3 linked regions of the Homo sapiens genome follow. The protein of the gene in region 2 interacts with the protein of the main gene of each other region in a pairwise test. Each region holds a gene or a part of one and is shown on either strand. Other genes may lie near its edges.

What was found.
Region 1: the proteins of VANGL1 (region 2) and RAPGEF5 interact in a two-hybrid assay, tested with the Homo sapiens proteins (one large-scale study listed by BioGRID and IntAct).
Region 3: the proteins of VANGL1 (region 2) and NT5C3A interact in a two-hybrid assay, tested with the Homo sapiens proteins (one large-scale study listed by BioGRID and IntAct).

The regions. Positions count from the first base shown.
Region 1 is NC_000007.14:22,117,734-22,120,606, forward strand, and holds the end of RAPGEF5 (rap guanine nucleotide exchange factor 5), read right to left. Parts: 3' UTR 503-2,873; downstream 1-502. UniProt on the Homo sapiens protein: Guanine nucleotide exchange factor (GEF) for RAP1A, RAP2A and MRAS/M-Ras-GTP. Its association with MRAS inhibits Rap1 activation.
Region 2 is NC_000001.11:115,696,197-115,698,735, reverse strand, and holds the end of VANGL1 (vang-like protein 1), read right to left. Parts: 3' UTR 515-2,539; downstream 1-514.
Region 3 is NC_000007.14:33,052,614-33,056,276, forward strand, and holds part of NT5C3A (cytosolic 5'-nucleotidase 3A), read right to left. Parts: intron 1-3,663. UniProt on the Homo sapiens protein: Nucleotidase which shows specific activity towards cytidine monophosphate (CMP) and 7-methylguanosine monophosphate (m(7)GMP). CMP seems to be the preferred substrate.

The sequences.
Region 1 (2,873 bases), on a different chromosome or scaffold from region 2:
AAGGGGGAGATGGACACATGCCAAAGGCCAAACTTGACCTCGATGGGCAAGATGTACAAATTTCCTGTTTACACAGAGAGAAGATGCTGAACACTCAGTCTGCGCTAGTGTATATACCGCCTGGCATCCCACTGCCCCAGAGCATCCTTATTATCCCTGTGCTGCTCCATCCACTCATGGCTCTTCCGCTGTCAGGACCTCTATCCTGGGCCCCGGGCATCACCACTGGGCTGGTAGCTGCACTCAGTATCTGGGCTGGTGAGGGACAGTTCCTGGTCCTGCTCAAGTAGGGTGAGGCAATGACAATGGTTGCCAGATTCCCCAGATTTCAGACTCTGAGAACACTGATGCAATTTCCAAAATAGGGTGTTTAGGTTCTGCAATAACCCAATGGCAGGATAAGTGATTTAGGCTTCTATGGGCTGCCTGAGAACCTCTTCATCTACTTGTAGCTCTTTCAGTGAGCAAATGACTTCTGAGTTCCAACCCCCTGAGCATCATATGCTGCCAGAACAGAGCTATTTAATCCACACACATCACAGAGAAAGCAAGAAACTAAGAGGCATGAATAGTGTCTTTAACATAGTCTCATATTTGGAAAAGCAGTTTTAAAAAAAAATTGAAAATACAAGATAAGGTAAGGGTTACTTATATAAGTTTTAACCTTATATTGCTTGGCCATTTTTACATATAAATTATTGCTTACTAGCTTCGATAAATACACAGCACAGTCATATACATATATATTATATATATACACAGAGGCAGAAAGCATGGAATATGGGAAAGAAAACACTGTTAATGGCAATTCTGGTAACTCAACAAATGTTTCATATTTACCAGTTCTTTAAATGGTGGAAAACTACCAAGTGTAGTCCCTGAGAAGTTAGGTAGACACCCTGATGGCGGGTTCTCTATCTTCTAATTGTTAATGCAAGCTGACAATATCACAGCAGCCCTAATTAATGATACATTAAAAGGCAAGATTTCTTGCTTCAGGTCACTGATTTCATCCCAGTATTTAATAACAGTGTGATACGAATACAATAAATAGACTATGCAAATAAATATTACTCTGCTAAAAAATGTTTAGTATATACAGCTTTGCTTTATACAGTAATACATTTGCATCTAACTTTTTGGCAATTTTTAAAAACTTCCCCCCCGCCCCCCCACCAGTTTTAAGCAAAACTGGCCCACTCGCTAAGAAGCAGGCTGAAATTTTAAGGACATGTTTTTGAAACATTTAAAAGAAATCCTGTGTTGGACCACTGCGGAAGACCCGATCGTCCCCATTTTAATGTTTTTGCCCAGTTTCTGAAAAGCCTGGATTGGCTGCGCCATTTAGGAACATTCAGTTCCGGATCTGCGGTGTCTGTGCTGGCTAGAACAGACTCGCAGGGCTGGGATATGGGTAGCAGTGAAAGCCCAGCTCCAGGGATAAGAAGTCATCACTGGTACTCTCTCTTTCATGCCACGATTTCTCCTCCACTCAGAGGCAAGTATATATTCATGCAGCATCCTCTCCCTGTGGACTAGGCAGTGTGAGCACTGACCTTATCCACATGCTTCTAAATTCGGTGTATGCTCCACACTACCTGTTTGTGGTTCTCGGTCTAGGGAAATGAATTTATTCTAAACATAATTAAGGAAACTAGAAAAAAGTGAATGCAGGTCATGTGTATCACTATAATCATTTGGCAATTATACAGATGACAAAGAGCAAATTCAAAACACCACACTCTAGGGAACACCTGCAAATGTGTATGTAAAACAAAATTTTTTTTAATAGCAAGGTTGTGATTTTGCCTACGGGGTCCTGCATTCTGCTGTCTTGTGCTAACTTCTAAGCAGGGCTAGTTTGCTGGAATGCTGACGAATCCAAAGACCCACAGGACTGTCTGAGAGTTGTGCTGTAACAAAAAGAGCCCACTTAGAAGTGCCCCTGCACCACCTGGTGCCGAAGGTGCCAGATTACGTAAGATTTGCAGAGTGAGCGAAGATTTTATGCAATAATAAAACTCCAAATGAGAGCTGGCAAAGAGCTTAGCCATCTTCTAGACCACGCTTCTAGCCAGAACAAACCCTATTCTGAAGAGGCCTTGGTGAATATCCAGAGAGGGTGCATGGCCCATCCTATTAACAAGGAGCACTCAAGCCCCACCACTGTCCACCAGTGAACAGCTCAGATTCCTTAGAAAGAGCTTTCTGTTGAGTAATATCTGGTTCTCACAATTCGGGCTTGAATTCTTTAATTCCAGATCTAAGATTCTGCAAAGCTTTGGAAACTTCTGAGAGCTGCTGCCTGGCAAACCTCTGGAGACAGTTGTTAAACTTCAGAAAGATGCAGAGATTTTAGACATTCAGAAGACAAGGATGGAAAAGCAAATCTTGACTGCACAAAATCCTCCCTTCCCTCTGCTACCCCTAGGACCACCTAACCACGGCTGGAGGAAGAGGTGAACAAGCATCATTTTCTCCCCAGCCAGTTTACACCCATGTCATGTGAGATACTCTGAAGTCACTGTACAAAATGCATTTAAATACCACATTTGTGTAGCTTCATCTGGCTTGGTGGGCATATCTGACTTGGGGTCTGAGCAGCATGCAATATGCTGAAATAGTTCTCCATGGAAAATTAGTCCCCTAAAGGTAATGTTCTACTAGGAGCAATGTAGTTCTAATGTAAATAAAAATCCAAATTTTGAAACACAGAAACAATGTCAGGATGGCCTTATATGATTACACTGGCCAAACCTTAGTCCAGGGCATAGGAAAAAGGTGAGAACACGTGCTTGTGCTGTAAGCCCATGCTATTGTTAGTAACTGCGTGAGGAGGGCTTTGGAGGGTTTGCTCAGCCCAGCCGTGAGGG
Region 2 (2,539 bases):
GCTGTCAAAATTCTACCACTGAGGTTAGCGGAAAACAGGCTTCATATTTCTTTGCAAATAATCAAATTTCCTTTAAATAGACCTATCTAAAATCAGTTGATAATTTAACTTGAATTCCCAAGCCACTCAGGAAAATAATCCAATATTCACCTCCCACATCAACCCAAAGTCTGTTACTTTTCTGTCTTCTTATTTGACTCAAATACCTTTCCACTTGCTGGTTTACTCAAAAGATCTGTTTCATCTCCATGTTTTAGAGCCTGAGGATTTCATTTTTAGTTATCTATTCAAAACATTTTCTTCACTGTAAAATGATTGACAACTAGTAGTTTTTGTTACAATGGTAATTCTACTTTCCCAATCCATCACAATTGTCTTGGTTTTTATAGAAATATGACAGGTTGTCTTGAAATTCTGAAGGTCTCAAAATTATGCGAGAGTGAAAAATGTCCCTGAAAAAGTAAGCAACTTTTTAGATTGAAATAATCACATGAAGAAAAGAAACAAGACACAATTTGATATTTCAGTTTATTTTCCAAGTTTACAGTATAAAAAATGTGATGTGTAAAACATTTTACAGTTAATTGGGATGAGGGGGGGATTATACTGGAGGACCCAAAAAGGAACAAAATAACTTGGGTGACAGGTACACTATTCCATCAGAGACACTAACTCTGTTACTGACATCACAATGAGAAGAAGTTTCATAGCATAAACCTTATGAATGTAAGTAAATGGACCTGTACAGATGGTTGCTGGTAGTGTCATTCATTCATTTACATGCTTGCAAATGTGTCAAAAGAGCCCACTACCCAGTTTATGCAGGAACTCACTCAGGCCTTGTCATACACATATGGTGACCATGAGCAGAGGCTGGTTGGCAAAACTGCCCCTCCTGGTTACAATGTACAGTATTAACTAATCAGAAAGAACAAAAAAGGTCCCTGACCACATTTTTACACAAACCGTTATGACTCTGTCAGGTAAAGACAGGTGGTTTCATCTCTGAACTTTCTAAATTGGTGCTGGACTTGAAATCAGGAAATGTAAAGTCCTTCTAACCAAAGCAATTATCAAATAATCTCCTCTCAAATAAGACCTGCCTGGCCCAGGCCTCTCTGGTTCTCTCAGTAGCATTTCTGTTGAGGAAGGGGTCATCTATAATGTGAGTTAAATCACTGAGCCAGTATCTGCCCCCACCCTCATCTTTGCTGGCATCCTGCACTCTATGCAATAGTTATGGCCATAAATGACTGTTGGAAATCAAATTTGGCTAATCACGCCATAACTTAGGGGTCCCAGAGGAGTTTGCCATTTAATTAAAGCCTACCGTAAACTATTATAAAAATAAATTATTGCCATAGTTTAGATTTTTGTATGTTCCCTTTTTAAAGAATGATGATGAAAAGTAAGCGAATGTTCCATTACCTCTATAACTGAGAGGTGCTGGTAAATGAAAAACAACTGTTTCATCTTTCTACAAGGCCCCTAGAACGGCAATGATGTGCAACTGTCTAAATTCCCTACAACTTCAGTTGAACTAAACTTGTCACCTGCAGATCAGATGCCCAAGTCCCATCACTAACTCCCTGAGCAACAAGTCTCTGGTCCCCACAGATGAAGCTTTCTTAGGCTGAAGGCTTTTTAGAATTAAACACTCCTAAATGATGAGCAACTTCACAACAAAAGGCCATGTCTACAAGTGAAAGCTCAGATAAAGATAAGCACATACAAAACCAAACAACTGTACATTCAAATAATGCTTCCCAAATACCATTTCAGTGCCAAAAGAAGTGCCAAAGACACTTTTAAGATAAAAGCCTGGGGTTTGTCACCTTTGTCCCCAAAGCTTAAAGTAAGTGTCTTTCTTCCACTATGACAAGGACAAAACGCTGATGTTTGTAAGCTGAGAGAGACATAAATGGTAGAGTCTTGGTGCCATATTGAAAGAAACTTTTCACAGTGCTGCACCTGGCTTTAGGAATCTGCTCTTTTGTTGGAGAGACTAAAACAACCCACTAAAGAGGCTTATTTCATAGACAAAACAAATTGGGTTATCTACGTAGAAACGGAACAGGACCTGGGAAAACGGGACTTATAGAGCCCTGAAATTTAATTTTATTCTGAAGTTTTACATTTCTAATCCATCGCATCTTAATTCCTAATGAGATGTCACATGGAGAGATGTGAGCACCATCTTCCCTTTACTGTCTTCCATTGAAAGCAAACAGCAGGGCAGAAAACTATGGTTTATGCACAACTGAATCAAAACTTACTACATATGGGAACAGAGAAAAATGGTTTTCTGAGTCCTGTTTTACGTCTGCTCTGTCAAAAGTCTTGGGGGCAAGTGTGAGAAAGACGGTGGGATGCAAACTGCTTGCTGAGAACACCTACGTCAAGGAGGCCAGGCCAGGGACTCCGGCTTGAGATCCCCACAGGATGGGGCTGTGGACAGCCCCTCTCACTCCAACCAGGGAAGAAGTTTGGGGCATAATGTTGCCATGGCACCAGAGAGAGGCCAGGTCAAGCCCCTGCC
Region 3 (3,663 bases), on a different chromosome or scaffold from region 2:
ACCTATTTTTCTATATCCTCATCACTCTCTCTTTATACAGTAATTGTCTGGCAGCACCGATTCTATTATTTGTGAGCAAGTAACCTGGAAGTTTTGTTACACATAAAATTTGCATTTTGCTGTAGTAAGAATTTTAATTGTTTACTTAAATGATTCTCAAGCTTTAGCACACATCACAATCACCTGCAGGCTTGTTAAAACAGACTGCTGGGTCCAACCTCAAAGTTTCTGATTGTTTGTCTGGAGTAGGACTAGATAACTCGCATATATAACAAGTTCCTGCTCAATGTTGATGCCATGGTCTGGGACCACTCTTTGAGTACCATTGGTGTAAAACACTAGTATATGGGATCCTGTATTTCAAAATAAGGTTTCATCCTTCTCTAGTTGTCATGGTTTATATAACCAGCTCTTAGGAGCCTTAGCCAGGTTGTAAAAAATTGCTGTATTGTAGGAAAAAATGCCCACCTCTTGCCCGCCAATCAATGGCTAGTATTGGTAACCGAGGTGAAGAAAGTAAAAGGATCTAAAGATGTAATGAGCCTGGGCAACATAACAAGACACTGTCTGTTTTTGTTTTTGTTTTTTTTCGAGACAGAGTCTTGCTCTGTTGCCCAGAGCTGGAGTGCAATGGTGTAATTTTGGCTCACGGCAACCTCTGCCTCCCGGGTTCAAGTAATTCTCCTGCCACAGCCTCCTGAGTAGCTGGGATTACAGGTTTGTGCCACCACGCCTGGCTAATTTTTGTATTTTTAGTAGAGACAGGGTTTCACCATGTTGGCCAGGCTGCTCCAGAACTCCTGACCTCAAGATCTGCCCACCTTGGCCTCCCAAAGTGCTGGGATTACAGGCGTGAGCCACCGTGCCCAGCCACAAGACCCTGTCTCTAAAAATAAAATTAGTCAGGCATGGTGGCACATGTCTGTAATCCCAGCTACTTGGGAGGCTGAGGGGGGAAGACGGTTTGAGCCCAGGAGGTCGAGGTTGCAATGAGCTATGATTGTACCACTGCACTCCAGCCTGGCTCACAGACTGTGATCCCATTTCTTAAAATAAATAAATAAATGACTGAAAGAAAGAAAGAAAGAAGTAATGGCTTTTAGTCAGAAAAAAATTTGTGAATAAATTTAAAATTAAGTATCCAGTTCAAAGGGGACTCCATCTGTTAGGTAAATGAATTCACAACAAAAGGAAAGAGAAAAAAAATTGTAAAGCTAAAACTGTTTCAGGAAGGAGCTGTTTCTAGCTAATATACAAGTAGCTCACTAGATAAGAGAACAACTTTGCATTAAAGTTGAAAATGTGGTTAACTTGTGGCATATGGATAATCTACAGGAAACCTGACAAACATGATTTGAAAGGACAAAGTCATACATGCCTGGTACAAACATTTCCACGTTTACAAATTTGGGAATTCAAGATCATCTTGAATATAGCCTTTGATAATGTTGAGTTTAATGGGCTGGGCATGGTGGCACATGTCTGTAATCCCAGCACTTTGGGAGGTAGAGGTAGGAGGATCGCTTAAGCCAGGAGTTTGAGACCAGGTGGGCAACATGGCAAAACCCCATCTCTACAAAAAATACAAAAATAAGCCAGGCATGGTGGCATGCACCTGTAGTCCCAGCTACCTGGGAGGCTGAAGTAGGAGGATCACTTGAGTCAAGCAGGTCAAAGCTGCAGTGAGCCATGATGGTGCCACTGCACTCCAGCCTGGGTGGCAGAGTAAGACCCTGCCTCAAAAAAAAAAAAAAAGAATTTAATGTATTTCTCTGTTTTTCAAACTGGAACAATCATGATTTTTATCCTTCAAACATCACCACAGCCATGAATCATTATGCAATGTCATTTCCTGTTTCTTTATCACATAGCCTTTTGTTGCTATGTCTCACAACCTTACACAGGTTGAGAGTATCCTTTACCCAAACTGCTTGGGACCAGATTTCGGGTATTTTGGGATTTTGGAATATTTGCACATACATTATATCTTGGGGATGGTGCCCAAGTTTAAATATGAAATTCATTTATGTTTCACATCTACCTTATATACATGGCCTAAAAGTAATTTTATAAAATATTTTACACAATTTTGTGGCTAAAACAAATTTGTGTACTCTTAACCATCAGAAAGCAAAGGTGTCAATATCTCAGCCACTTGTGTGGCATCATGTCAGCGTTCAAAAAGCTTCAGATTTTGAAGAGTTTTGGATTTCAGATTTTCAGATTAGGGATGCTCAATCTGCATTCATTTTGGAGTACTGTTAGGTCTATAGTTTTGAAGCTAGTTGTGACACATAATTGGGAGATTAGCTTCCACATCTCACTAGGACATACAAAGGAGGTGGCTATGTGTTGAGAGCTACTTAAAATCTAGATATTTCAAGTGTGAATGAATATATCTTTACTCGGGGTAAACAAAAGATACATGCTATCGGGCATGGTGGCTCACACCTGTAATCCCAGCATTTTGGGAGGCCAAGGCGGGCGGATCACCTGAGGTCAGGAGTTCAAGACCAGCCTGGCAAATATGGAGAAACCTCATCTCTCCTAAAAATACAAAAATTAGCTGGGCGTGGTGGTGCCTGTCTATAGTCCCAGCTACTCGGGAGACTGAGGCATGAGAATTGCTTGAACCTGGGAGGCAGAGGTTGCAGTGAGCTGAGATCATGCTACTGCGCTCCAGCACAAAGCGAGACTTGGTGTCGGAAAAAAAAAAAAAGAAGACAGAAGCTGTTCTGAGTTTGTGTTCTCTACTGCTGTATTATAAGTAACCAATTAATGGACTCTCTCCCTTTCTTTCTTACTAATAATATCTCATTTTTGTTGGAAGGTGGCAAATGTGCTCAATCAGAAAACAATTCTTCAACTTCACTTACATAAGGGTAGCCATATAACCTTGTTCTCTCCAATTATCTGTAAGCAGAAAATTCAGCTTGACTGAAATAGGTATTTTCTTCCCTGATTCCACCTTTCTGCTGCCTGAAACATGGACGCATTGGCCATGACTGGAACGACCATCTCACGACCATGAAGAAAAGACAAGGGAAATGTCAAAGACCTATGCCTTGGTATCCTTATGGCCCTAATTAACACAAGCAACTGCCTGTTTTTTGGAATTGTCATTCCATTAGAAAAATAAAATTTACTGTTTACTGAAGCCACTGTTTTGGGGTCTCTCTTTCTCTTAGTCAAGTGCAACTAATTTTTAAAGAGACCAGCTAGTCAGGTGGCTCATGCCTGCAATCCCAGCACTTTGGAAGGCTGAGGTGGGAAGATTGCTTGAGCCCAGGATTTTGAGACCAGCCTGGGCAACACAGCAAAGTCTTGTCTCTACAGAAAACAAAAAATTAGCCAGGCATAATGGCTCATGCCTATATTCCCAGCTACCTGGGAGGCTGAGGCAGGAGGAATACTTGAGCTCAGGAGTTTGAGGCTACAGTGAGCTATCATCATGTCATTGCATTCCAGCCCAGGCAACAGAATGAGACCTTGTCTCAAAAATAAATAAGACTAAAAGAAAAGCACCCATTCCAACCCTCAAGGAACATAAATAATAATAAACAATATGAGACACTGTATAAATTGCTAAATTATGAGAAATCATCAGGAAATGCCAAAGGAATTCAGAGAAAATGTTTTACAAAACAAATCAAGAATTCAAAA